7 separate regions of the Homo sapiens genome follow, and all the other regions are linked to region 7. The links come from fine-mapping of genetic effects on gene expression. A gene starts in region 7. Each other region holds a variant in brackets. All regions are shown on one strand. Distances are between the middles of the regions. Region 1 overlaps SETDB1 (SET domain bifurcated histone lysine methyltransferase 1). Region 2 holds the start of ENSA (endosulfine alpha). Region 3 has its middle 21 kb from the start of CTSK. Region 4 overlaps ARNT (aryl hydrocarbon receptor nuclear translocator). Region 5 overlaps ARNT (aryl hydrocarbon receptor nuclear translocator). Region 6 overlaps ADAMTSL4-AS1 (ADAMTSL4 antisense RNA 1). Region 7 holds the start of CTSK (cathepsin K).

What was found. PIP is the estimated chance that this variant, and not a neighbour inherited with it, causes the effect.
Region 1: its variant is fine-mapped to the expression of CTSK in whole blood (INTERVAL, PIP above 0.99).
Region 2: its variant is fine-mapped to the expression of CTSK in whole blood (INTERVAL, PIP above 0.99).
Region 3: its variant is fine-mapped to the expression of CTSK in T cells (TOPMed, PIP above 0.99). The same link has a PIP of 0.9 or more in blood mononuclear cells.
Region 4: its variant is fine-mapped to the expression of CTSK in whole blood (TOPMed, PIP above 0.99).
Region 5: its variant is fine-mapped to the expression of CTSK in whole blood (TOPMed, PIP 0.99).
Region 6: its variant is fine-mapped to the expression of CTSK in whole blood (TOPMed, PIP above 0.99).

Annotation. Positions count from the first base shown.
Region 1 is chr1:150,931,097-150,935,162 of GRCh38, forward strand. All of the region lies in intron 3 of SETDB1 (SET domain bifurcated histone lysine methyltransferase 1), which reads left to right. Among named protein-coding and RNA genes, the nearest start is that of SETDB1, 6.8 kb to the left of the region's middle. The variant C/CTTTTTTTTTT (reference allele first, on the strand shown) is at 2,272.
Region 2 is chr1:150,628,222-150,632,287 of GRCh38, forward strand. It overlaps ENSA (endosulfine alpha), which reads right to left and starts at 1,391. Exons shown (of 4, transcript NM_004436.4): 1 at 1,193-1,391. The coding sequence starts at 1,249. LOC112268239 (a long non-coding RNA gene) reads left to right here and starts at 1,598. Exons shown (of 2, transcript XR_007066603.1): 1 at 1,598-2,281. RefSeq lists enhancers at 1,106-1,375, 1,118-2,085, 2,086-3,055. The variant C/A (reference allele first, on the strand shown) is at 1,805.
Region 3 is chr1:150,785,508-150,789,573 of GRCh38, forward strand. No RefSeq gene overlaps it. Among named protein-coding and RNA genes, the nearest start is that of CTSK, 21 kb to the right of the region's middle. The variant AAAC/A (reference allele first, on the strand shown) is at 1,651.
Region 4 is chr1:150,861,859-150,865,924 of GRCh38, forward strand. The region is part of intron 1 of ARNT (aryl hydrocarbon receptor nuclear translocator); the gene reads right to left. Among named protein-coding and RNA genes, the nearest start is that of ARNT, 13 kb to the right of the region's middle. The variant T/C (reference allele first, on the strand shown) is at 2,105.
Region 5 is chr1:150,829,943-150,834,008 of GRCh38, forward strand. It overlaps ARNT (aryl hydrocarbon receptor nuclear translocator), which reads right to left. Exons shown (of 22, transcript NM_001668.4): 9 at 2,392-2,457; 10 at 1,876-1,961; 11 at 1-38. Among named protein-coding and RNA genes, the nearest start is that of CTSK, 24 kb to the left of the region's middle. The variant G/C (reference allele first, on the strand shown) is at 2,066.
Region 6 is chr1:150,561,512-150,565,565 of GRCh38, forward strand. It overlaps ADAMTSL4-AS1 (ADAMTSL4 antisense RNA 1), which reads right to left. Exons shown (of 4, transcript NR_104133.1): 3 at 1,591-1,706. Among named protein-coding and RNA genes, the nearest start is that of ADAMTSL4-AS2, 5.8 kb to the left of the region's middle. RefSeq lists enhancers at 276-455, 282-1,133, 1,134-1,987, 1,336-1,615, 1,886-1,935. The variant A/G (reference allele first, on the strand shown) is at 2,362.
Region 7 is chr1:150,806,346-150,810,411 of GRCh38, forward strand. CTSK (cathepsin K) reads right to left here and starts at 1,915. Exons shown (of 8, transcript NM_000396.4): 1 at 1,869-1,915; 2 at 341-461. The coding sequence starts at 460. It overlaps ARNT (aryl hydrocarbon receptor nuclear translocator), which reads right to left. Exons shown (of 22, transcript NM_001668.4): 22 at 3,368-4,066.

The DNA.
Region 1 (4,066 bases), 120 kb after region 7:
TAAAAATAAAAAAATTAGCCAGGCATGGTGGTGCACCCCAGTAATCCCAGCTACTTGGGAGGCTGAGGTGGAAGGATCTCTTAAGCATAGGAAGTTGAGGCTGCAGTGAGCTGTGATTGTGCCACTGCACTCCAGCCTGGGTGACAAAGCAAGACTCTTGTCTTCAAAAAAAAAAAAAAAAAAAAGGGTTTCCAGAACAGACATCCTGGCCAGGCGTGGTGGCTCACGCCTGTAATCCCAGCACTTTGGGAGGCCAAGGAGGGCGGATCATGAGGTCAGGAGATCCAGACCATCCTGGCTAACACGGTGAAACCCCATCTCTACTAAAAATACAAAAAATTAGCTGGGCGTGGCGGCGGACGCCTGTAGTCCCAGCTACTTGGGAGGCTGAGGCAGGAGAATGGCGTGAACCCAGGAGGTGGAGCTTGCAGTGAACAGAAACCACACTACTACATGTATACATATGTAACTAACCTGCACAATGTGCACATGTACCCTAAAACTTAAAGTATAATAAAAAAAAATTAAAAAATAAAAAATAAAAAAAATAAAGATAAACCAAAAAAAAAAAAAAAGAAACCACACTACTGCACTCCAGCCTGGGCGACAGAGTGAGACTCTGTCTCACCCAAAAAAAAAAAAAAAAAAAACAGACATCCTTTTCTTCTTCCTGATGTTGATATGAAAGCATTTGGTGTTTAACCATTAATTATGTTAGCAGTAGGTTTTCTATAGATGTCATTTATTAAATTAAAGGAATCCCCTTCTAATCCTAGTTTGAGAGATTTTATCATAGCCTAATTGGATTTTGGATTTTGTCAGCTTTTTCTGTATCATTCTCCTATGTTCCTTTTGTCTTTTATCATATTAAGAATGTATTACAGTAGTTGTTTTTTTAGATGTTAAACCAACCTTGCATTCCTGGAGTAAACCAGCCTTGGTCTTGATGTATAATTCTTTTTATATGTTGCTGGATTGGATTTGCTGATTTAAAAAAAAAAGATCTTGGCTGGATGCTGTGACTCATGCCTGAAATCCCAGCACCTTGGGAGGCCGAGTTGGGCAGATTGCTTGAGCCCAGGAGTTCAAGACTAGCCTGGGCAACATGGTGAAACCCCTTCTCTAATTTTTTTTTTTTTAAAAAAAAAGAAAGAAAAAAATTTTTACATCTGTTTCATGAGGGCTATTGGTTTATAGTTCTGTTGTGGTGTCCTTGTTTGGCTTTGGTAGCAGGGTAATATAGGCCTTGTAAATGAGTTGAGAAGTGTTCCCTCCTCTGAGTTTGTATGGAATGATATTTCTTCCTAAAAAGTTTGATAAATTCAGTGCTGAGGCCATTTAGGCTTGGACTTTTCTTTGTGGATTTTTAAAATCTTTTATTTTGGAATAATTTTAGATTTATAGAAAAATTGAAAAAGTAATAGAGTTCCTATATATCCCTCATCTAGTACATATGTCAAAACTAAGAAGCAAACACTGGTATATTACTTTTATATAAACTTCAGGCTTTATTCAGCTTCTGGACTTTTTCTGTTCCATGATCTAATCCAGGATATCACATTAAATATATTTCCAGTGTGATGTTTATTTTCTTCCTTTTACTTACTGGGTTTGATTTGTTCTTCTTTTTCTAGCCTCTCAAAGTGGAAGCTTACAGGATTGATTTTAGACCTTTCTTCCTTTCTAATATAAGCTCTAAAGCTATTTATTTCCCCGTAAGCATTGCTTTGCTGCATCTCATAAATTTTTTTCCATACAGTGTCACTCTCAGGATATCATACTTTTTTTATGTTGTGTTTTCAGCTTCATTAAACTTGGCATCATTTTTAATTTTCCTTGTGGTTGTTTGATTTCTAAATATTTGGGGTTTTTTTGATATCTTTCTGTTGTTAATTTTTAATTAATTTTATTGTGTTCAGAGAATATACTTTGTATAATTTTAGTCTTTTTGAATGAATGAATGAATGAATGAATTGATTGATTGACAAGGTCTCACTCTGTTCCCCAGGCTGGAGTGTGATAGCATGATCATAGTTCACTGCAGCCTCAACCTCCTGGGCTCAAGTGATCCTCCCACGTCAGCCTCCTGAGTAGCTGGAACTAAAAGTACATGCCGCCACGCCCAGCTAACTTTTTTTTTTGTAGTAGAGATAAGGTCTCACTATGTTGCCCAGGCTGGTCTCGAACTCCTGAGCTCAGGCAATCCTCCTGCCTTGGCCTCCCAAGGTGCTGGGATTATAGGCCTTAGCTACCATGCCTGGCCTATTTTGT[C/CTTTTTTTTTT]TTTTTTTTTTTTTTTTTGAGACAGTCTTGCTCCATTGCCCTGGCTGAAGTGCAGTGGCATGATCTCACTGCAACTTCTGCTCACTGCAACCTTTGCCTCCTGGGTTCAAGCAATTCTCCTGTCTCAGCTTCCTGAGTAGCTGGGACCACAGGCACGCGCCATCACACCCAGCTAATTTTTGTACTTTTAGTAGAGACAGGATTTCTCTGTGTTGGCCAGTCTTGTCTTAAACTTCTGACCTTAGGTGATCTGTCCACCTAAGCCTCTCAAAGTGCTAGAATTACAGGCGTGAGCCACTGTGCCTAGCCCTATTTCTTCTTTGTTGCCTTCTTAAAGTCAAACAAACATTTCAGAAAACCACTGTCATTCTTCTGATTTTTCTTTTTCTTTTTCTTTTTCTTTTTCTTTTTCTTTTTTTTTTTTTTTTTTTTGAGATGGAGTTTTCGCTCTTGTTGTCTAGGCTGGAGTGCAATGGCAGGATCTCTGCTCACTGCAACCTCCGCCTCTTGGGTTCAAGCGATTCTCCTGCCTCAGCCTCCTAAGTAGCTGGGATTACAGGCATGCACCACCATGCCTGGCTAATTTTGTATTTTTAGTAGAGACAGGGTTTCTCCATGTTGGTCAGATTGATCTCAAGCTCCCAACCTCAGGTGATCCACCTGCTTCGGCTTCCCAAAGTGCTAGGATTACAGGAGTGAGCCACCACACCCGGCCCCTGATTTTTCTTTTTTTTAGCTTTCATAAAAGGGGTTGCATCTGTACCTAATCATAATCTATTACAAATTAATACTGACTTAATTCTGGTAAAAATACAGCCATTTTGGCTGGGCGCGGTGGCTGACGCCTGTAATCCCAGCACTTTGGGAGGCCGAGACGGGCAGATCACGAGGTCAGGAGATCGAAACCATCCCGGCTAACACGGTGAAACCCCGTCTCTACTAAAAATACAAAAAAATTAGCTGGGCGTAGTGGCGGGCACCTGTAGTCCCAGCTACTTGGGAGGCTGAGGCAGGAGAATGGCGTGAACCTGGGAGGCGGAGCTTGCAGTGAGCCAAGATCGCACCGCTGCACTCCAGCCTGGGCGACAGAGCGAGACTCCATCTCAAAAAATATATATATATACACAGCCACTTTGCACCAGCATACTTCTACTTTCACTCTCTTCCTGTGTGATACTATTGTCAAATATATTATAGCTACATGTTTAAAGCCAATAATCTAGTGTTATAATTACTGCTTTAAGCAGTCTCATGTTTAAAGAAGGTAAGGGAAGAAAAGAAAAATATGTATTTACCCAGATATTTATCACTTCTGTTGCTCTTCATTCCTTCCTGTGGATCTGAGTTATCATCCAGTGTCATGTTTTTCCAGCCAGACGGTTTCCTTTAATATTTCTTGCAGTACAGTTCTGCTGACAGTGGATTCCCTCAATCTTCGTTTACCCAGGATATAGAATTTTTTTTTTTTTTTGTGACAGAGCTTTATTCTTGTTGCCCAGGCTGGAGTGCAGTGGTGAGATCTCAGCTCACTGCATCCTCCACCTTCCAGGTTCAAGCAATTCTCCTGCCTCAGCCTCCCAAGTAGTTGGGACTACAGGTGTGCACCACCACGCCCGGCTAATTTTGTCTTTTTAGTAGAGACAGGGTTTCGTCATGTAGTTCAGGCTGGTCTCAAACTCCTGGCCTCAGGTGATCCACACGCCTTGGCCTCCCAAAGTACTGGGATTACAGGCGTGAGCCACTGTGCCCGGCCCTACCTGGGATATAGAATTCTTGATTGACAGAGTTTTCTTTC
Region 2 (4,066 bases), 180 kb before region 7:
ATTCAAGGTCTAAGCCACCTGTTAGGTCTCCCTGTGGAGGCGGCTAGCTATGTGGCCTTCTCCAAAGATCTCCACCTGAGTAATGGCACAGCCTTGCTTCAACATTTCCACAAATATTATGGTAGCAAGCTGATAAACAGAGAGGAAAATGATACTGTTTTTAACCTCAGGAAAACAAAGATACAGTAGGCTCACTAGTATTTACCCACCAGTTTTCATCAAAAAAATCAATACCTACCCTGGTGGTGCAGGGACTCTCACTACTGTAGTCAATCTCTTTTTTTTTTTTTTGTGGTCCCTGCTGCCCTTTAGTGACTTTTTGAAAAGATATGAAGTCAACGTATGACTCTTTTTAGTGGAATTATATTCCTTTCTCTTGGAAATTACGCATAGATATAACACCAAGTGTATTTAATGAGTACCTGAACCCAGTACTAAATTTTAAAAGTCAAATACAAACCCCAATAAGGGGTTTATTTGGCGTTAGTGTTTCCATCACGGAATCGCAGGTGCACTAAGTCCCTGCCTTGGAAGTCTAGGGGAAGAGAGAAGTGTCTTTCTCACGACCCTGTCGGCGTCTTTTCCAAGTTTAATTACCATGATTCTGTTTGGAACTCTAGCCCTCTTCAATATTGCTGGGTCCTCACTGAAGGTGAGCAATAGACCATCCTTAGCTACTAAAATAGGTCTCTTGAGAAAGTTGCCGCCTTAAACTAGCCATTATAATAACTACACTTCTCCCCTCCCCCAATACTGGTTTTTTTTTAAACGTCTTTACCTCGACCCCTATCTTTGCGGATTGAGGCTGCGGGCCCCAGCCCGGTTGCTGGGTCACTTACCTCTACAAACCAATAACACACATCACACCCAAGACCACCAGCCATCCCCTTTCCATTCACCGTCTTTCCAACCACCCGCCCCACGTCCATGCTCGGCCAATTATAGCACAGCGTCCAAGGTTTGAGCGGTAGGCCTATTGGCCAATCAGGAAGAGTACAGTACTGAGTGACAAACGACCCAACTAACCAGCGCCAAAGCAGCATGTCGTGTTGAAGCTCACCCAGCGTGACGCAAAAAGTGGCCAACCCCTGCGGAGCCTGAGACCATGGCGACCAATCCGCACTGGTGGGAGACCGTCTCCCGCCCCATCACGGTCTCCCCAGCTCGCCCGCCCGCACCCCTTCCACTTCACCTGCTTCTCCTCGCCGGTCTCCTCCGCAGGGTTCTCTTCTTCTTGTTTCTGGGACATGGCGGGACCGGGACTGTGGAGTGTAAGGGGCCCGGGAAGGCAACCGGAGAAGGGAAGGGGGAGGGGAAACGGGGACAACCTGCGCTGCTGCTTCGGCTCCTGTCACTAGGGTTGCTCAGTCAAAATGGCGGCCCTTGCCCGTGACGTTGCGACCGCCCCTTCCTATGAGAGCCAGTGGGAGTGAGGTAGATAGGGCAATGACGTAACGATCTACCAATAGTCGCCGTCTAAAGGTGGGCTCTATAGAGGCGACCGGCAAGCTGGAACACCAACCTGGAAAGAGAGTGAGCCACAAGGACCAATTGGAAGCCTGTGGGGGATATCGGGGGCGGGGCTGCTGGCTGTGGTACTTTTGCAGCTTTGGTGGGCTCCGGCTTCCTTCACTCCAGCCCACCGCGTCCGAGAGACTTAGCAGGGCGTCAAACTGGAGAGCGGAAGGATGGAACCTTTTATTCTCAGGTGGAGAGGATTAAGCTTTGCGGTGTTAGCAGAAAATGATCGAGCTCCAGAAAATGATTTGGAGGTCAGATTCGATTTTAAAGTAGTACTAACAGG[C/A]CGGGCGCGGTGCCTCACGCCTGTAATCCTAGCACTTTGGGAGGCCGAGGTGGGCGGATCACCTGAGGTTAGGAGTTCGAGACCAGCCTGACCAACATGGTGAAACCCCGTCTCTACTAAAAATACAAATATTAGCCGGGCGTGGTGGCGGGCGTTTGTAATCCCAATTACTTGGGAGGCTGAGGCAGGAGAATCGCTTGAACCCTGCAGGCGGAGGTTGCAGTGAGCCGAAATCGCGCCACTGCACTCCAGCCTGGGTGACAGGACGAGACTTTGTCGCGAAAAATAAAATAAAACGGTACCAATGGTATTACGATGTGTCACTTGGCCTGTGGAAGAGAGAGACTGAGTCTCAACCCGAGCTGTCTTGCAAAACACTAATGGCTTACGTTCCGTAGTTTCACTCTTATGTGTAGTTTTTATATTCCATCAGGGTGATCCCTTGGGGACTACGCTCCTTGAAACAAGGAGGACAGTGTAAGTATGTGGTAAACATTTGGTAAATACGGTTAATACTAGTTAACCTATCCAGAATTACAGTTTAACATTTCCTGGGCGTCTGTCTGTATGTGGATGGTACTGTGTTAGTTGGGGGGGGTACGTGTATAGTAAGGCAGTCTCTGCCCTTAGAAAGCTTACAGGCCTGGCTGGGCGCGGTGACTCACGCCTGTAATGCCAGCACTCTGGGAGGCGTAGGCGGGCGAATCACTTGAGGTCAGGAGTTCGAAACCAGCCTGGCCAACATGGTGAAACCCTGTCTCTACTAGAAATACAAAACAAGGCTGGGCACGGTGGCCCACGCATGTAATCCCAGCACCTTGGGAGGCCGATGAGGGTGGATCATGATGTCAGGCGATAGAAACCATCCTGGTCAACATGGAGAAACCCCGTCTCTACTAAAAATACAAAAATTAGCCAGGCGTGGTGGCGTGCACCTGTAGTCCCAGCTACTCAGGAGCCTGAGGCAGGAGAATCGCTTTTACCTGGGAGGCGGAGGTTGCAGTGAACCGAGATCGCATCTCGCCACTGAACTCCAGCCTGGGTGACAGTGAGAGTCCGTCTCAAAAAAAAAAAAAAAAAAAGAGTGGCAGATAAGAAGTGCTCTTTATGGAGATAATTTGGTGGTAATGAATAAAAAGACTCAGAATTCCAAGCAGAAAACTACCAGAGATGAACAGTCTAGCCGAGTCCTCTGCAAACGTTAGGTGGGAGATAATTAGGATTTAACCTAGAAACGTAGTAGTTAAGAATAGAAAATAGTGAACCTAACCAAGAGAGTCTGTGACAATGGAATCCACTAGACTAGCAGCTGACTGAATAGAGAATGAGAAGACTGTGTGCCTCAAGGTGATTATTTATAGAAACAATAAATTCAAGAAGAGGAGTCAATTTGGGAATGGAGCTGAAAAGCAGAGAGAAAATAAGGCATTCAGTTTTGAAAACATGGACTTTTTTTTTTTTTTTTTTTTTTTTTTGAGACGGAGTCTCGCTCTGTCACCCAGGCTGTAGTGCAGTAGCACAATCTCAGTTCCCTACAACCTCTGCCTCGCGGGTTAAAGTGATTCTCCTGCCTCAGCCTCCCGACTACAGGTGTGCGCCACCATGCCCGGCTGATTTTTGTATTTTTAGTAGAGACAGGGTTTCGCCATGTTGGCCAGGCTGGTCTCAAACTCCTGAACTCAGGTGACCTGCCTGCCTCGGCCTCCCAAATGCTGGGATTACGGGCGTGAACCACCGTGCCCGGCCTGAAAACATGGACTTTATTAAAAGCGAATGAACCATTTGGTGGAGACATCCAGGCAATGAAGACTTAGGATAAATGACCTCTAAGATCTCCATATCTGAAATTTAAGGGTTCTAGGAAATGTAAGTGTGGGAGTTTGGGAGAAAAGTAGACGCTGAAGATGTACAAATTTTGGACTTTTTCACATAAATGTAAGTAAAGTTGTGGAAGTTGATGGGATCACAAAGGAGAATGTAGGAAAAAAAGAGGTTCCAGTCAGGTGCGGTGGCTTACACCTGTAATCCCAACACTTTGAATGGTCAAGGTGAGAGGATCGCCTGAAGCCAGGAGTTTGAGGTTACAGTGAGCTATGATCATGCCATTGCACTCCAGCCTAGGCAACAGAGTGAACCCGTCTCTTAAAAAAAAAAAAAAAAAAAAAACTCCCAAGACAGAAACGTGGGGAAAAGTTGGCAAAAGACATACAAATGATCAGAGTGGTAGGGAGAGAATTAGAAGAGAGAAGAGCCATGGAAAGC
Region 3 (4,066 bases), 21 kb before region 7:
TATGCTTGTCACCCTCTGCACTGTTGACTTGCTTAATGATCCTAATAGTCCTAGCTAACATTAATTGGATGCCAATTATATGCCAATGAGTGTGCTAGACTCTTTGTGCATTATTATTTAATCTTCACAACTCTATGAGGTAGATATTATTATCCTCATTTTACAGAGGAGAAGTTAAACTTCTGAGAGGCTAACTTGTTCAAGAGGACAAAACTGTCCATTGACCTAGAAGTGAACCAACCTTGTTTTTAAAGTAGTGCTTTCCCAAAATTATCGTGTTGCCTCTCTCTTTCTGGAATTTCCTTTTCTCATTTCTGCTGCTTGAAATTCTGCTCCTCCTTAATGGCCCATCTCTGAAAATAGCTCTTACAAAAAGCCTTTCTCGGCCAGGTGCAGTGGCTCACGCCTGTAATCCGAGCACTTTGGGAGGCCGAGGCGGGTGGATCACCTGAGGTCAGGAGTTCAAGACCAGCCTGACCAACACGGCGAAACCCTGTCTCTACTAAAAATACAAAATTAGCCGGGTGTGGTGGCGCATGCCTGTAGTCCCACCTACTCAGGAGGCTGAGGTGGGAGAATTGCTTGAACCCGGGAGTCGGAGGTTGCAGTGAGCCGAGATCGCACATTGCACTCCAGCCTGGGCAACAAGAGTGAAACTCCGTCTCAAAAAAAAAAAAAAGCCTTTCTTTATCCCCAACTGGATGTCACTTTTTGAGCTTCTACCAAGCTTTGAGGCTTTGAGGCTCCTTGTGGCAGACACATAGACTGAGCGCAGAAAAACCATCCTCTTAATTTTCTGTTTAATATGATAATTATTTGTATTTTTGCCTTATGTAACTACCTGTTAGCCCATAAAGTACAGGGGCCCTGTAGCTCCTACTCTTCTTCGTGTCCTCCACAGTATATGATGCGATGGTCAGCAGACACTAAATAAATATTTTCTGATGATTTAAATTATTTCAGCACCTTCATTCCAGTCTGTTGTGGAATCTCATCCTGCACATCACTGCCAAACTGTGCTCCTAAAACACATTTTTATCATGCTGTTTTCTAGAAATGTTTTCTGTTGCCTGCTGCATGAAGTCCTGCGCCCCTGCCTTCCAAGGCTCTTTCCCCATGCTCTGGATCCCTTTCCTGAGCATTTTACTCAATTTGTTTTTGTTTTTGTTTTAAAGAGGGGGTCTCGCTCTGTTGCCCAGGCTGGAGTGCAGTGGCGCGATCTCGGCTCACTGCAAACTCTGCCTCCCTGGTTCAAGCAATTCTCTGCCTCAGCCTCCCGAGTAGCTGGGATTACAGGCACACGCCTCCATGCCAATTTTTTGTAGTTTAGTGGAGATGGGGTTTCACCGTGTTGCCCAGGCTGGTGTTGAACTCCTGAGCTCAGGCAATCTGATGGCTCATGCCTGTAATCCCAGCACTTTGGGAGGCCGAGGCTGGTGGATCACTTGAGGCCAGGAGTTTGAGACCAGTCTGGCCAACATGGTGAAACCACGTTTCTACTAAAAATATAAAAATTAGTGCCTCATCTGTAGTCCCAGCTACTTGGGAGGCTGAGGCACGAGAATCACTTGAATCCAGCAGGCGGAGATTGCAGTGAGCTGAGATCGCACCATTGCACTACAGCCTGGGTGACAGAACAAGACTAGTCTC[AAAC/A]AACAACAACAACAACAAAAACAAACAAACAAAACCCCAGATTTTGAAAACTCAGCCTCTGATGTAGCCATGCTGGTCCCATGGACCTCCCCAGTTGCCCAATCATTCTTGCCTCCTTTCTAGAATGGCTCTCTCCATTCCTTGGCCTCTTTGTTCTGCAAGATCCACTTCAAGTACTGCCTCCTCAGAGCCTTCTCTAACTACCCCAACTCTTCTTCCCTCTAGCTACACTTGCACGATACAAATTGTACCACGAAATTCTGATTCTGTATTTGTAGCACGTAAGATAGTTTTATCTCACTAGCTAACTTGAAAATACAGGATCTTGTCCTACTCATCTTTGTATTGCACTGTGGCTTAACACATATTTAGATAATAATCAATAAACATTCATTGAATTAACTTTTCCTAATTATAATATTCTACATGGTTTGTCTTCATTTCTGGTTCATCATGACTTGGCAGTGGCTTCTGAGGCTTTAAGCCTTAGGTTTCTCTTTGAATCTCCTCCTGGTATGCAAAAGTCTGTAAACACATACAGTGTTTGAATACATTAGGGGAACATGTCATTAGATAATCTATCCTTGTATCACTTAAGGTATTTTATAAACTTACACATCATCCTGTGACATTCCAAAGCTGTAAACTGGATTTTTGCAAAGCTGTAAATTGCCCTGAAATGGGGCACACTTTTTGCAAATTTATTTCAATAGCGATTGAAAACAAAAAAACAAGGCAAATGTTTTGCACAACAGTTGCACAACAACTAAGTCTTATCCAGAATGCTGCACAACACTAAGTCTTATCGGGAATGCAGACTCCCTTTCATCACAAACGAGGCAACATCTCCTGAATAACGTGGAAAAGGAGAAATGAAAGCAAAATAAGGAAGCTTTGTCCCTGCTTGTTACAGTTGTACCTTTTCAAGCTTTTGAAGTAACCATCTCTTAGCTTCATGCCCCCTGAAAATCAGCTGCTTTAAGTTTCTCTGTCTTATTTAGTCTGTGTGTGTGTGTGTGTGTGAGAGAGAGAGAGAGAGAGACAGTCTTGCTCTGTCGCCCAGGCTGGAGTGCAGTGGTGCAATCTCGGCTCACTGCAACCTCCACCTCCACGTTCAAGCAATTCTCCTGCCTCAGCCTCCTGAGTAGCTGGGATTACAGGCGCGCCATCACGCCTGGCTAATTTTTGTTTTTTGTTTTTTTTTGTAATAGAGACAGGGTTTTGCTATATTGGCCAGGCTGGTCTTGAACTCCTGACCTCAGGCGATCTACCTGCCTCAGCCTCCCAAAGTGCTGGGATTACAGGCGTGAGCCACTGCGCCCTACCCTTATTTAGTCTTAAAGAAAAGGATTTTGAATTTTAGGATGATTCATTCCAATGCTAGTTCTAGTCTCTGTTAATTTACCCAAGTGTGCTAGGAATTTAATAACATACATTATTTTCATAATAAAATAGTTTACTTCTTACTGACCTCACTGTCCAAGAAATGCACAAAGGTGAGGTGAGGAATACCCTTCATGGACTATAGGAGAATATGGGACTAGAAAAGACGATTTTACCATAATGTTGAGTTTCCCCTCAATTAACTTTATGTTAATATTATGCAATAACTTTCTGAAGAAAGAAAACAGAATTCTTGAGTCATTAGGGAAAATAGGAATGTTCTGAATTGAAAATATATATTCTTTCTGATATTCTGTGTAGCTTATCTGCTTGGTGCATTATTTGATCCTAGTAGACATCCCCCATTATCCTACAAGTACTCCTTGTCACCTAGCAATGTGTACTCAAAGAAGGAGCTTAATTTTACCAAGAGAACAAAATAAGACATAATTAGGGAGTACTCTAGAAGCCAGTGATAAGACCCCTCCCCTAACAAATGAATAACAATTGGTGTGACACATTTGATGTGTTACAATTAATTACAAAGTAAGTCACAAGAAATGTATTACTAATAAAAAAGTACCAACAGTTTGAAAGTGACATGTTTAACAATTAGAGCCAATTCAGCAGATTATCCCTATAATAATATTATGTTGATAGATGTGCATTCCAGTATGCTTTCTGGGAGAGAGAAGGGGAGAATTATGGGTAGCTACCAACGACTGATATTATTTTGTGAGCGTGTCCGTGGAAATGTGTCGAAAATGTGAACAACATCTGTCTTCTCTATAGTAATATGGGAAAGTTGAGAATAGCTAAGCTAAAAGGTGTTGGAAGTATACTTTTTTTCACCAGCTTCCCTTCCTCCTTCTCGTGGTAACAGCACCCTGATTTTAAAATGGGGAAACCCTGACACTCCTGGGCTTAAGATAGAACCAATCTTGCCCCTAGCTTCAAGAGTGGGCATAGGTCCCAAGGCCAGCCTGTCAAAGTTTTGTATCCCTCCAGCTACAATGACTGGTTGGGGAAT
Region 4 (4,066 bases), 56 kb after region 7:
TTACATAATATCCAGTACTTTATTATAAAGTAGAATTTAAGTTAGATTATTTTGCCCACTGCAGGCTAATGTAAGTATTCCACACACATTTAAGGTAGTCTAGGCTAAGAATAGGTTAAGTGTATTAAATGTATTTTTGACTTAGGATGTTTTCAATTTACAATGGGTTTATCAAGCCATAACCCCACCATAAGTACAGATGTACTTATTCTGAACTTTTTCCCTTCCACGTAACAATATATTGCTATGGCAATAAATACACACGTAGATCATTCTTTTTAACAGTTACATAGTACTCTGTACTATAAATGTATAGTTATGACATTCAAACCTTCACTATTATAAATAATGTTTCAAGGAACATCATTGTGTATCTTCATGCACAGGTGCCAGTACTTCCATATTATTTCTGAAAATGACTCCCTGGGCCTAAGGGTAGACACATTTAAAACTCTGATTGCCCATTACCTGCCAAGGAGGTTATACCAATTTAAAGCCTCATCCACTGCATCAATTTAGCCATACCTCCAACAGCACTGTGTTTTGGGAATCCTTCAAATTTGTGGTCATTTTCTTGGTAAAAAACAATTACCACTGTTAGTTTAACATACATTAAGGCTGAGTATATTTTTATGTTACTGCTAATTTTTCTATTTCAGCCTATAAATTTGAAATAGTAAGCATATGTTACTTTCCTAAGAAAAAACACTTTTTCCATTAAAAAAAAAAGTTCAGGGCCAAGTGCAGTGGCTCATGCCTATAATCCCAGCACTTTGGGAGGTCAAGGCATGAGGATTGCTTGAGCTCAGGAGTTCAAAACTAGCCTGAGCAACATAGTGAGATCCTGCCTCTGTAAAAAAAAAAAAAAAAAAAAAAAAGTTCATACTTTTAGTAATACGTTTATATAGGATATAAGAGTACCATGGAGTCAAACCTGTAATCCTAGCACTTTGAGAGGCCGAGGCAGGCAGATCACGACATCAGGAGTTCGAGACCAGCCTGGCCAATATGGTGAAACTCCGTGTCTACTAAAAATACAAAAATTAGCCAGGCATGGTGGCGCACACCTGTAGTCCCAGCTACTCGGGAGGCTGAGGCAGAAGAATCGCTTGAACACAAAAGGCGGAGGTTGCAATGAGCCAAGATCGTGCCACTGCACTCTAGCCTGGGTGACAGAGCAAGATTCCGTCTCAAAAAAAAAAAAAAAAAAAGATTACCATGGAGGCCAGGCACGGTGGCTGATGCCTGTAACCCCAGCACTTTAGGAGGCTGAGGTGGGTAGATCACTTAAGGTCAAGTTTGAGACCAGCCTGACCAACACGGCAAAATCCCGTCTCTACTAAAAATACAAAAATTAGTCAGGTGTGGTGGTACACGTCTATAATCCCAGCTACTTGGGAGACTGAGGCATGAGAATCGCCTGGGAGGCAAAGGCTGCAGTGAGCCGAGATCATGCCACTGCACTCCAGCCTGGGCAACAGAATGAGACTCTGTCTCAAAAAAAAAAAAAAGAGTGCCAGGTAAATTCAGAGAAGATAATCCTGGTTTAAATTAAGGCCTGGCATAGTACTTGCAGAGAAGATGCTCAATATGAAGAGGAAACTAAAGGAAATAAAGAAGGCAGGCAACCAGCCCATGGGGAAGTTTCAAAAAGGTAAATCAAACTGGGCCTTAAAAAAAGTAAAGGAGACCAGGCACAGTGGCTCACGCCTGTAATCCCAACACTTTGGGAGGCCGAGGTGGGTGGATCACCTAAGGTCAGGAGTTCGAGACCAGCCTGACCAACATGGTGAAACCCCGTCTCTACTAAAAATATAAAAAATTACCAGGCGCCTGTAATCCCAGCTACTCAGGAGGCTGAGATAGGAGAATTGCTTGAACCCAGGAGGCAGAGGTTGCAGTGAGCCAATCGAGCCACTGAACTCCAGCCTGGGCAACAAGAGCAAAACTCCGTCTCAAAAAAAAAAAGTAAAGAAGAAGAAAAAGGCATTCCACATAGATAAAAGTACATGAGCAAGTCTAAAGGGAGATATGAAAATACAGTTATGTATCACTTAACAACAGGGATATGTTCTGAGAAATGTGTCATTAGGAGATTTCAACA[T/C]TGTGTGAATATCATTGAGTATACTTACACAAATCTAGATGGTACAGCCACTACACACCTAGGTATGTAGGTGTATAGCCTACATACCTATATGTAGCCTATTACTCCCAGTAACAGCCTATTACTCCCAACCTGTACAACATGTTACTATACTGAATACTGTAGGCAACTATAACTCAGTGGTAACTATTTATGTATCTAAACATAGAAAAAGTAATGTGTTGTGCTAAGACCTTATGACAACTATGATGTCACTGGGCAATAGGAATTTTTCATCTCCATTATAATCTTATGGGACCACCATCATACATGCAGTCCTTTGATGACCAAAGTGTCATTAGGTGACACATAACAGCAACTGTGAAGAGCTGTAAAGAAAAAGACCTATTGGAACCAACCCAAATGTCCAACAATGATAGACTGGATTAAGAAAATGTGGCACATATACACCATGGAATACTATGCAGCCATAAAAAATGATGAGTTCATGTCCTTTGTAGGGACATGGACGAAATTGGAAATCATCATTCTCAGTAAACTATCGCAAGATCAAAAAACCAAACACCGCATATTCTCACTCATAGGTGGGAACTGAACAATGAGATCACATGGACACAGGAAGGGGAATATCACACTCTGGGGACTGTGGTGGGGTGGGGGGAGGGGGGAGGGATAGCATTGGGAGATATACCTAATGCTAGATGACCAGTTAGTGGGTGCAGCGCACCAGCATGGCACATGTATACATATGTAACTAACCTGCACAATGTGCACATGTACCCTAAAACTTAAAGTATAATAAAAAATAAATAAATAAATAAATAAATAAATAAAAGAAATATGATAAACATATAAATAATATGTGGTGGAATGTAAAAAAAAAATTGCCCCTGAAGAAAACAAAATGGTTTTCTTTAAATCAAAAAAAAAAAAAAAAAGAAAGAAAAAGACCTATAAAAGGTAAGATGTCAAGTGCTAACCAAGAGAAAGCTTTGAATGCCACGATGAAACACCTGGATCAGATTCAACAAAGACAAACATATAACTTTAAGTCTGAGTAACAAGATGAAAATATAAATTAAAATTAATCTGACAGATTTAAAGTTTGAAGTAATAGAAGTAGGAAGACAAGATTAATAAAAAAAACAAGGTGATAAAGGCCTAAATGAGGATGGCACAACGAAAAGGTAGTTACTTCTAAAATTTTAAACTATGCAACTTCTGAGTAAGGATAGTGAATTAAATGTATCTATCTATTTCTACTCTCTTCTCTCTTCACTCACACACAGGAAAAAAATTTTTAAAAGCAAAAATTTTTACACAAGACATAAAACCACAAGGATGGAAAGAATAAGAGAAGAAGAGCAATAATTTTTTTGAAACTAGAGATAAAATGGACTATTGCCTTGGGAGATCGACAAGAACTAAATCCTAAACTGACAAGGGAAAAAGCAGAAAACCAACTCAATTTACGCTATGGAATTCCCCAAAGTCTCAGAAGCTGGTGAGTCCAGGTAACTCTGGGTATGCAGGGTAGGGTGAATGAAGTGAAAATAAGGAGAATTAGTTCAGCATCTGTTTACTACAGAGATGGATTCCTAGATCCTTTTCTCTATTCCTTCTAACCAAGGCAACTACCCCTCTCCATTCTGTCAAAAGACAGATTTACTCTCTGGAGAGTATAAATCAAAGGTCTTACAGTCTAGTGAACACGACGTAAAGGTGAAAGTGAGGGACCCGTACTGAAAACAGGAAAACTAACACCAATGTATGCATACTACATGCTTCATTTTTCTTCTGTGTTATACTGCCTATTTCCTATATTTCGTATCTCCACTTTCTTGGTTTACTATCTCCTACTGGTAGAGCCTATCTTCTAGTGGATTCCTGAAAGGGTGTAAGAAATGCCTTGGATGTATGAAAATATTTCTTCTATTTCACTAATTGATAGTTTGCCTAGCT
Region 5 (4,066 bases), 24 kb after region 7:
CTGGCCAGCCTCTGGGTCATCATCTGGGAGGGAAACACCTTCAGAAACGTGACGTTAAAAGGTTTAACGGGGACCTCCAACTCAAATGCCTTCAAAACTCAGACAAGTAAAGATTCAAAATAGACCTATTTATGGGCCAGGCACCGTGGCTGACGCCTGTAATCCCAACACTTTGGGAAGCCAAGGTGGGCGGATCACTTGAGGACCAGCCTGGCCGACACAGTGAAACCCCATCTCTACTAAAAATACAAAAATTAGCCAGGCATGGTGGCATGCACCTGTAATCCCAGCTACTTGGGAGGCTGAGGTGAGAGAATCACTTGAACCCAGGAGGCGGAGGATGCAGTGAGCCGAGATCGCACTACTGCACTCCAGCCTGGGCGACAGACAGAGTGAGACTCCCTCTCAAAAAAAAAACCAAAAAGCAAAACAAAACAAAATACATCTAGTTATGAAGAGGCTAAGCATAAAGCAATAGAGAATGATAAATAAGAATAAACAAGTATATAAAACTTACCATATATGCCAGTCATTGTTTTAAGTATTTACATATATATTAATTCCTACATTTTACCCATGTTAATTATAGTAAACTGGAAAATACAAGTCCTACCCAGAGTACTCTAAAAAACTATGCTGGCCAAATATGGCACATATGAAGACATCCATTCTATGACCATGTTATAGGCAGAAAATTTATGCTTTGCCTAATCTGTAACTTTTAAAGTTAGCAAGCAACCCAAAATGAAGTTATACCAACCATCAATAGTTATTCATGTCCCTTGGAAAAGAGAAAAACCAATGTTTTACACAGAAAGGGAAGAAGACTGCATTTCTCCCCTGTTTTTTGCATAGTTATACTCTTTTTATCCAGAAAAATAGTATTCCTTGATGCTACATAGAGGTATGAAAGATCACATACTTTAACTGTGTGGCTTATATAGTATATAGACTAAGTAGTTCAAATGTCATTACTACTTCAGTTAAATTTTTTTAAATTACATTAATTACTTTTATTGGGTTACCTGCCATATGCCAGGCACTGGGCTGGATGCTTTCCTTACATTAAATCTAATCCTCACAAAAACCCTATACAGGATGTACTAACTCTGAATTACAGATGAGAAAACTGAGCTTTATAAAGGTCAAGCAACTTACCCTAGGTGATGCCACTAATAAGTAACAATGACAGGAATCACATCCAGGTTTCTCCACATCCAAAGTTTAACCTTTTTCCAAAACACATCACCTTGCTTCTCTTTTCTCTTAGTTTCTGTCTCCCCAAAACCCCTACTTTCCAATAATACCCAGGCAGCAGGGAAGTAATAAAGTTGCTAAGATTTGGAAACTCTGACAAGCCAACTTAAAACTTTGATCCTGCAACCCAATCACCTTTCTCACATTCCTTGTTTGACCTCAAGTTCTGGTAAAGCTAATCTGCTCAAAGCTTGATTTAAAGTCTTTGCAGAGAATATCCTCTTGATAAGTTATTACAATAAAGGCATTTTCCCCTTTTCTCTCAAAGTCTTGTTCCTACTTTAGAAATCTTTCTCAAATTAACTGCATTCAATGTCTAAGTTTCTTTGCAACAAATGCTTAGAATACATATGTTCAGTATAAATTTGTTCACATAAAAACCACATTCTGTGACACAGCCAATACTGAATCATTTTCCAGCCTGAGTTATCTATCTCCTCAACTGGAATAAAAGCTCAATAATGGAAGGGAAGGATTGTACATTTTCTTTTCCTATTTTCTTTCATCTTACACAAAAGTACATTTCATATACCAGGTATATAATAAATATTAGCTTTCATGGACTCTGTGAGGAACCAACTGTACCAAGGGGAAATATTTACTATTTCACTTTCTTACCTGCTGGGGGCCAGGCCTTGATGTAGCCTGTGCAGTGGACCACCACGAAGTGAGGTTCCCCATCCTTTACAGAGCCAAGTCCATTCCTAGAAGAGTTACAGGAGTTTGAAAAAAAAAAAAAAAATCTACCCGTAAAACTCAAAGGGCAATGCTGCCTTAGTACTTTTAAGTTTATGCTCTTAGGAGTTTA[G/C]AAAACAGGATAATCATCTTTCCCACCCAAAAATGACCGCCACATTTTTACCCTTGCCAAAGTAAAGTAACCAAAAGGTATGCAGTAGGAGGAAAGTAGGTAAAATAGCATAGCGACTTCCTTAAACAGGATTTTCAAGAGAAGTTTTAGAAGTTTAGGAAAATATTGCCAGAAAAAAAGTAAGTGGGAGGTAAGGGATGTTAAGTGGGAGGTAAGGGATGCAAGTGAGAGCTGCTGAAGGAACGACTACAGTAAGACAGGTAAAAATGTGATGATCTCTGCAGGTATTTGGCCATCCCTTTGGTTTTCACCACTTAGGATCTCACCTGCATCTGTTCCTCACAAAGCTCAGCCTATTCACAGAAACTGGGTCCACAGAGCTACTGCCACACCTGTTTCAAGGAATAAAGAGATTAAAAGCAATCAGACTGCCCTATCAAAGAACTTTCCACAGTAATAGCAGAATAACATGCTCTGGATACAACCAGACATAGAAAATTGGTAATGCTACTAATAATGAAGGATAAAGATAGGTCAAGTTTAGTATTTCTAAAACTTTTAGAATTTGAAGTCAAAATGTTCCATATGTTCTTCATATGCAAACATTCTCAACATCAAGAGTTGGCAAGCTTTTTCTGTAAAGGACCAGATAGTACATATTTTCAGCTTTGCGGGCCAGAAAGTCTGTTGCAACTAGTCAACTCTAGCATTATAGCATGAAAATAGCCATAGATAATATGTAAAAATATGGGCATGGCTATGTTCCAATAAAACTTTATTTACAAATAAAGGGCTGTGGTTTGCTTACTCCTGCTCTACATTAACCACAACTTAATGTAATTGCTACAGTTCATTATTATCTTGCTCTTGCCTATGTCTTTGCATTAGCCATGTCCACATATTGGGATACTCCTGCCAATGCTACTTTCCCTCTCCCTATCCTTTAAAACAAAAATAAAACTTACATAGGGTTAATATGTGTCATGCTCTGTTCTAAATATCTTTACATATATTAATTCATCTAATCTTCATAACAACTTTATAAAGTCAGTATTAACATTATCGCCAATGTGAGATGATGAAATCAAAGCACAATGTAGTCATGTAATCATCCAAGGTTTCAGAAGATAGCATCAAAGCTAGAATTCAAATCCATAGAATATGGATTAAAACAAAATCCAGCAGTCTGGGTCTAGAAGCTACTCTAAATTACACGCTGGGTGCAGTGGTTCAGGCCTGTAATCTCAGCACTTTGGGAGGCTGACGCAGGCGAATCACTTGAGGTCAAGAGTTTGAGGCCAGCCTGGCCAACATGGTGAAACACTGTTTTACTAAAAATACAAAAATTAGCCAGCTGTGGTGGCAATCCAGCTACTCAGGAAACTGAGGCATGAGAATCGCTTGAACCCAGGAGGTAGAGGTTGTAATGACCCAAGATCATGCCACTGCACTCCAGCCTGGGCAACAGAGCAAGACTCTGTCTCAAAAAAATAAATAAATAAAAATAAAAATAAATCACTAAACCACATAATGTTCAATTTTGTGCCTCTCCAAGCAAACCTTTAATATCCTACCCATAATTTCTAGCAACTATCCTCTCAGTACAATGTAGTCAATTTCCATTATATAGCCTGAACTTTGTGACCCTGAGATGCCTTTTGTACCTGTATAGAAAGGACCACCATATTTTCTACAGAATCCTAAAACGTACAGTATATAATTTATAAACACTAAACACCTACTGAAAGACATAGGAAGTCTCAAATTTCTAACCAAAAAAAAAAAGAAGAAATGGTCTGAGTAAATGGATATTGCCTTGTGTTGTAACAGGGAAAAAGTAGAGGTTTTGTAGTCAGACTACTATGAATTAAAACAAAATCCTGTATCAAACAGTATGTAACAGTGGGAAATTCATTTCTTTTTCTTTTTCTTTTTTTTTTTTTTGAGACAGAGTTTCACTCTTTTTGCCTAGGCTGGAGTGTAATGGCACAATCTCGGCTC
Region 6 (4,054 bases), 240 kb before region 7:
TCGCTTCTCTCAAGGTAGAGAACTTGCTAGAGGCGGCCTGAGAGGGGCAGGCCTTTGCCATCACATCCTCTCCCAGACCCCTGCCATTCGGAGACTGAGGCCGAGTCTCTCCTGGAAGCCGGGCTGCCCAGGAGGGGCGGTGCCGCAGGAGCGCCCCCGCTCGCGACTCCACAAGCCCAGCTGAGCACGGCCGGGAATACGGGGCCTGCGGAAACAGTGAACTCAGTGGCTGCTGTTTTCTGAGCACCTGAACCCTGTGGGGGACGACAGAGTTGCCCGAGGCGGCAGGATGTCCCCACACTCGCGGTCCCCCGCACATCTTCCTGTTGCTTTGGGACTCGGGCTTTCTCTGGGTTGAAAGTGGCTGAGAAGGAAGAATTTGGACATCTTAAGAGGAGAGCGAGTGGGGAAGGAGGCAAAAGGGAATGGAGAAGGAAGATAAAACTGACGTCAGCCCAGGGCAGGGAGCGAGGAAAGGGGGCCACAAGGAAAGCCCAGTTCCAACGTCTCTGCTGAGCCTAAAGAGGCCTCAGCAGGGAATCACAGATGTGGGGGGCCAGGGAAACGGGATCCGAGCCCGCCCAGTAGGTATAGAAGGCCGAAGGCAGAGTCCTGAGACCCAGGGAGGGGTGGGGTGGAGGCTGGGGCCCTCCCAGCGATTCCTGGAAGCCCAGAGCTGGGCGGTGCCGGCTCAGCTGACTTCCCCGAAGCTCCCCTCCCTCTGCTCAGGGCTGTTGCTGGGCAGGTTTGGCGTTTGCCCTGAGCCTGAGAACCAATCGCAGGTGGAGGTGCGGTCGCAGCCCCTCGCAGGGCTCCCCGGCTTCAGCACCCCCTTTCTCTTTCTGCCCGCCCATGAGCTCCCTCTCGGCCTCCAGCCTCTGACCTCTCAGGAGGTGGGCTCTCCTCTGGGGGTCTGCTCCCTTTCCCCTCTTATTTTAGAGCTAGGACTCAGTGCAGCCCCTAAGGATTCCTTCCTCTGGTCACTGAGGTCATTATGGGGTCAATGCGGAAGTTCTCAGGAAAGGGAACCCGACCCCAAGCAATCCCTTTTCTTGGCCCCGTAGAGGGGAGTAGTGTGGCCAGACACCTGTTCGCTGACCTCTGAAACCCTCTGGGGGGACTTGGGAGAGCAGAAGCTGCAGCCTGAGGGCAGAGGAATGTGGGGAGGGCCCCTGGGTTTGGTGCACTAGTGGGAATTTAGGGAAGGACTCAGAGGAACTGGACCCCTGAGAATTGAGATGAGGGTGGGGTGGTGATAGGAACAAACTTGATATGCACAAGAGAGATCAAGCATGCAAAAGGCCTGCAAATTGTTGAGGATGCCTCCTTTCTGAGGGTGTGCTGGGGGAGGGGGTTGTGGTTTGAGTATCAGTGACACTAGGGGTGATCTGTGCTCTCACAAGTTCAGCTGGGTCAGGATTCCTCTCCCCTCCCCCTCCCAGCTTCCCCAGGGTAAATACCCACCCAATTTAAGTTGCAGCTTTTGGACTAAATTTAGCTCCTGGACTTCCCCAACCCCCAGGCCTCCCTGTAAGCAGGTGCTCACAGCTGCAGCATGGGTCTGGTGGAGAGTTTGAACCTTCTCCTCACCTCCACTCATCCAGATTCCACCTTTCTGGTAACTAGGAGTGAAGCAGAGCACAGGAATCCAGTGGCTGGCCCAGGGCATAAGTGTCTCAGCCTTAAGCCACCTTCTCCCAGGAAACCTGTAAGAGAAGAGCTCTGGTGGGAGACTCTAGATGGACATGGAGGGTGGTGGGGTGTAGAGAGAACAAGATGCCAGGAGAGCCTCCCTCCAGATTCTCTCCAGCCAGACCCTCTCTCATTCCTTGCTCTCCCCTTGTCCCCAGGTTTACAAATAGAGACTTCATGTTAGCATCTTCCCCACCAGAGTAAACTGACCCAGGAAGCCCTCTCCTCTCTTTGAACCATGGAGAATCATGCTACCGTAGAAATTATGGTTTGGGGAGGTGTGTGTTTCAAGTAGAGGTGGTTTGCCACAGGTAGGTGATGAAGAGCTGTCAGCTTTAAAGGGCAGAGACACCGTCTAAAGGAAGTAGAAAGCCTCAGGAAAGTACCTAAGTCTAAGTCTGTCAACAAGAGACAGAAAAAGTTTGGGTTAACCTCAAAGTAGCCAGCATAAACCCTGAATCTGACTTTTGGGCTTCCTGACCTAGGAGACTGGGAAAACTCAAGAGGGTGTTTCAGGGCTGAGTCTGAAGGAAGAAAGGATTTGAGGGAGGAATGTATAAGATTAGTCCAAAACAAGGTATGCACGAGATATGGCAGTCAGATGCCAGGGAGCCATCAGCTCTGCCAGCTGAAGGGGAGGTGCAGAGTTGGCTGGAAGCTGGCCAGAGC[A/G]GAGCATTTCTCCTGTGAGCACTGGAGAGCTGTGCTGAGAGGCCTGGGAAGAGCCCTGTGCTGGGGGAGGAAGGCTAGGTTGGGTCGGCATGTTTGTGTGCTGTACTCTTCTGAGCCTTACCTGAATCTCTTGAGATAGCTCCACTGAACTTTGAGTGAAGAGGAAAAGAAACTGGGGGAAAGAGGGTGGGATTATAAAAAAAGGAGCAGACTGTACCCCTGGGATCCCTAGGCTAAAAGGCCCTCCCCTTGATGAGACAGGCAGAGATCATCTCCCCTGGAACAAGGTCACCCTTCCTCTCTCCCATCGCTACATTCCTCTCCTCCTTACTGTTGACTATTGGTTGCCTGCCTCTTTCATCACAAAATGAGACTCCTCTTTAGCTTTAGTAGAGGGTTGGGCAAACTTTTTCTCTACAGGAGTAGATGATAAATATGTTAGGCTTTGCAGGACCTATCATCTCTGTTGCAGCTTCTCTACTGTAGCAGCACAAAGCAGCCATAGACAATAAGTAAACAAATGGGCGTAGCTGTGTTCCAATCAGACTTGTGACACTAAAGTTTTAAATTTTTCTTTTTTTTTTTTTGAGACAGGATCTTGCTTTGTTGCCCAGGGTAGAGTGCGGGGGTGGGGCGCAATCATAGCTCACTGCAGTTTTGACCTCCAGGGCTCTAGCCATCCTCCTGCCTCAGCCTCCCAAGTAGCTGGGACCACAGGTGCAGGTCACCACACCCAGCTAATTAAAAAATTTTTTTTTGTAGAGACAAGGTCTCACTGTGTTGCCCAGGCTGGTCCTGAACTACTAGGCTCAAGCAGTTCTCCCACCTCAGCCTCCCAAAGTGCTGGAATTACAGGCATGAGCCACTGTGCCCGGCCCATTTTTTTCAACCATTTAAAAATACCAAAATGATTCTTAGCTTGTGGGCCATACAAAAACAGGCAGCAGGGCAAATTTGGCAGGGAGGTGGTTTCTGACCCTGGGGATTTTTCCTAACTGGTGACTTCTGCTCTGCCTAGCCATAGAAAGTCCTGTTTGTGTCTCTTCCAGGCCTCAAAATACAGCTGTAGAACCTTTTAATTCAACATACTCTACTGATGCCTGGTTCTTAATTGCTTCTCCTAGGGAATTTAAGGACTTGAAAATGGTTAATAGAGTAAACCCTTAAGGGACAGTCCTGAAACTCCTTCTATTTGTGTAGTGCTTTAAGGTAAAAGCACAAAGCACGTGTATCAATAGTCTCTCTTTAAATCTTTGCGGTAATAAGATAGCTGACAGTATCGTTAAGTCCTGTTTATAGGGGAGAAAATTAAGGCTTCAGATCTAGTTTCTTCACTTTTTTTTTTTTTTTTAGATGGAGTTTTGCTCTTGTTGCCCAGGCTGGGGTGCAATGGTGTGATCTCGGCTCACTGCAACCTCCGCCTCCCGGGTTCAAGCAATTCTACTCACTCAGCCTCCCAAGTAGCTGGGACTACAGGCATGTGTCACCACGCCTGGCTAATGTTGTATTTTTAATAGAGACAGGGTTTCACCATGTTGGTCAGGGTGGTCTCGAACTCCTGACCTCAAGTGATCCACTCGCCTCGGCCTCCCGAAGTGTTGGCATTACAGGCACCACGCCTGGCCAAAAACACTTTTAAAAATTTATTTTTGGTTAGACACGGTGGCTCACGCCTGTAATCCCAGCACTTTAA
Region 7 (4,066 bases):
CTAACCATGGAATTAAGAGCCTGCAAGAAGAGATAATATGTAAACAAATACAACACAAAGCTCTGGAGAGACAGAAAAATTGCTTATAGATTAACAGCATTAATCTTAGAACTCTTCCCAAAAGAGAAATGTAACACACTTATAAAGCAAAGGAAGGATACAGTTTGACAGAGGATGATTTGAAGCATAGGAATGAAAACCGTATGTTAACATGAGTTAGGGAAGAGGGACTGATTTGCTTGGAATAAAGCATTTGGATTGAAGAAGGGAGTCTGGAAGCTAAGATGAGAGAGCTCAGGTCTCAGCCTTCCTGCCATGCCCCCTCCAGGACCCCAGGCACCTTGTTGTTATATTGCTTCCTGTGGGTCTTCTTCCATAGCTCCCAGTGGGTGTCCAGTATCTCCTCAGGGTACAGAGCAAAGCTCACCACAGGTAGCAGCAGAACCTTGAGCCCCCACATCCTGCAGAAGAATGTAGTTAGGGAAAACTCTTCCATTTGGCAGGGAAACAGAGGAAAACTAGGCTTTATGAGGAAGAGAAAGGTAGACGGAAAAAGGGTGATAAAACAATGATAGTCAGGAGGGGCCTGTGTTTAGATAGGATGCTGGTACATCTGGTTCCAAGGACTTTGATCTAGGGGGATTTAGCCATTTCTCTCTTTCTCTCTCTCTCTCTCTCTCGGGAGATTTAGGCAACACACACTCTCTCTGTTTCTCTCTCTGTCTCTCTCTCTCTCACACACACACACACACACACACACACACACACACACACACACACGTACACAACCAGAAATGGGGGATAGAAACTGGACAATCAGAATGGGCTCAGTGCGTTTCCTCCAGGGTCCCTAGCAGGCTTGGAGACAGACAAATAGCAAGGTGGTAGTGGGGTTCAGAATACACAAAGGAGAGATTTCCGTCTAAGTTTTGCCTCCTGATCATTTCTTCGAGGCGTTCTTCTCTTTCGTGCCTAAATTCTGGTACTTTCCCAGATCTTGTCAGAAGAGGACAAGGGAAAATAGGACAATGTTTCCTGTTTTCTGAGACATTGTATATCTCCTCATTCTCCTTATGCATTTCTTCTTCCTTTTTCTCTCCCTTCCCTCCTTAGGCAGGAAACTGCCCTAATCTTAACCAGATGCTGCGGGCAAGGTTTTTTATTTTTCCCCTAACAACAAAAACCCACTGTGGCTGCCGCAAAGGACAAGAAGCCTCAGATCCAAGGTTTGTTAGAAGAATGTTCAGACTGAAAAGCAATGTTCTATGATGATGAAATTCACAGCTTTTCATAAGTTTACTCTAGTTAGCTTCACTCATTTCTTGCATTGGCTTTCTTAATTACAAATCCTCCATTTTAAGAACAATTTGCAGCCTGCAGCATGACATATGGCTTACACAATTGCTTATAGTCCATTTACATGTAATTTTGCAAACTGGCAAAATGTCCAGTAGGACATTTAAAAACTAGAGTGTTAAGGGCTTTGAGATGTCTCAGTGAACAGGAAGCACTGAGCTACTACCTCCCCATACCACTCTCCTCCTCCTCACTAAGGAGTTAACCGTTTTGATCCTTGTTGGCCAAAGTAGAAAACACTGCAGAAAGGCCACTCTTGAAGGATGGGGAAATGATTCCCTATATACTTTGCTTTTACTAACAATCATGTATGTATATATATAAATCATACAAGGAATTCTACAGATTTCCAGGCAGATTTTATTTAGCCAGGGAATGACCTAAGAAGTGCATCTCTGTTTTCATCTGCAGAGGCTAAAAGTTTATTGTGATCCTCAAGTCACTACATCCCTAATACTCAGAGAATTGACAGGAATGAAAAGCTAAAAGATCTAGGAAGTTGCAAACGTTACCTGCTGATGGAAATCTGTTGTCTGGCTTCGTTTCGGCAGCAAAGTGTGGGCACACCATCAGGGGTGCTAGATTTATTCCATCGGGATTGCGGAAGTCAGCTCCAGTGATCGGCTGGAAAATTTGGGTAAGAGGAGGAGGCGGGGATAGAAATGCTGAGAGAAGGAAGGGTAGGGAGGAGGGAAGGAGGCAGTGGATTTGCAGTGTTTCTGTGTGTATGCAGCATGTGTGCCAGGGTAGGGAATTACTAGCTATTTAGTCTCACAAGACTGTCTTTGGTGGCAAATAACAAGACCTCAATATCTATTGACTCAAATAGGAGCTTACTTTCTCTTTTGGTGAGTAAAAGGAAGGACACAGCCCTAGTCTCTCCCATCCTTCTTCTTCAATATCTTTATTTTAATATTGGGGGATTATATCTTTTCCTACCCCTTTCCTGTTAGGATTTACCTCTCCAACATTGAAACCTATTTTCATATTTGTGTCTGACTCTCACCTCTGGGATGCGGTAATGAACATAAAAGGCTATAAAAGAATAATGTAATGGAAGCCATAGGCTCCAGAATTCTTTGTATTTTTATAAGCTTGTTGGTTGCAAGTTGTCATTACTTCCAGGCAGAATAGTTTTCCCAGCCTAATGTGGTTTTGCTGAAGGAGGATATGCCCAGAAAGTCCAGATGAAACTGTCTTTAAAAGTAACCAAAAACAGCAGTCCTGGTTATTTATGACAGCACTTGAATCAATGCCGTAAGTTCTGATGGACTCACATGTGACTCTGTTGCTAAAACTCTCAGGTGGTGGGATGCCCGATAAACATCATCTGTCTCAATTAAAATCCCCAATCTAGGACAAGTCACATGAGCTTCTCCAAATGCTTCCCCAACATCCAAGCATGTGACAGATCATAAGAATCTAGCTGATTCCTCAAACCACACCCCAAACTTCATTTTCTTCCATAAACAGATGTGGGGAAGGAGAAAAAAAGGCTTCTTGGAATAGAAAGGATAATAAATGGGATCTGTAATAGACTCAGTTTCTAGCTGGATTCCATGCATAAACCCTCAAAAATACAGGCTTATGCCTCTGGATTTTAAGAGCTGCTAACAGGCTAGGCGCAGTGGTTCACGCCTGTAATCCCAGGCCTTTGGGAGGCCAAAGCATGTGGATCACCTAAGGTCAGGAGTTCGAGACTAGCCTGGCCAACATATAGTGAAACCCCATCTCTACTAAAAAAAAAAAACACAAAAATTAGCTGGGCATGGTGGCACACACCTGTAGTGCCAGCTACTTGGGAAGCTGAGGCAGGAGAATTGCTTGAACCCAAGGGGCAGAGGTTGCAGTGAGCCAAGATCGTGCCACTGCACTCCAGCCTGGGTAACAGAGCGAGACTCCATCTCTCACACACACACACACACACACACACAAAAAAAAAAAAAAAAAAAAAAGTTGCTAATGAACCAACATAGTCTCCTAGAGGGAAACCAGGTCCAGACTTGAACAGTTTAAATTTCACTCATTTTAATCCAGAAAAGGACATACTGGGGGAAGGCATCCAGATGTGCCCTAGTGGTTTTCAAGTCCCGACTCTTCCCCTCTCTCCCAAGAACCCAGGCAACGCCCACCCCAAAACCCCCACCTCATGGTCAGAGCATTCCTGCTGATGTTACTCAGAATGTGTCAGGATCAGGAGGACAAGTGAGGGGGGAGGCGTGCAATGTGATCAGAACCCTATGATTTCTGATTCCTGAAATTAAAGACACAATGTGCCTTATGTTTGTATGTCTGGAGCTTAAACTATAGATTCCTCTGGTTGTGGGTGCCTGTTGTTTATGAACTGGAAAGGAATGATAAAGCCGCAATCAAGATCACACAACACAAGAAATTTTACAAAAGGAAAAAATATTTTGTTTGAAAATCTTTGCTACATGTCATTATTTTTGCCACTGTAAAGCTTAGCACAGATGCCAGCAATACAGAAATGGCCAACAAGAAAACAAAACAGTCAAAAATAAAACCCTGAAGGAAAAGCAAAAACAAAACCCCCAGAGCATCTTCTCGCTATCCTCCCCTTCCCCAAAAGCCCTATAATAACTGTACAATATTATAGTCCTGATCACATTTAAAAAGTCGATTATTAAAAAACAAGGGTTCCATTGGAAACTCAACTTTTTGGTTTCGTAAATTGTGATATAAATATATA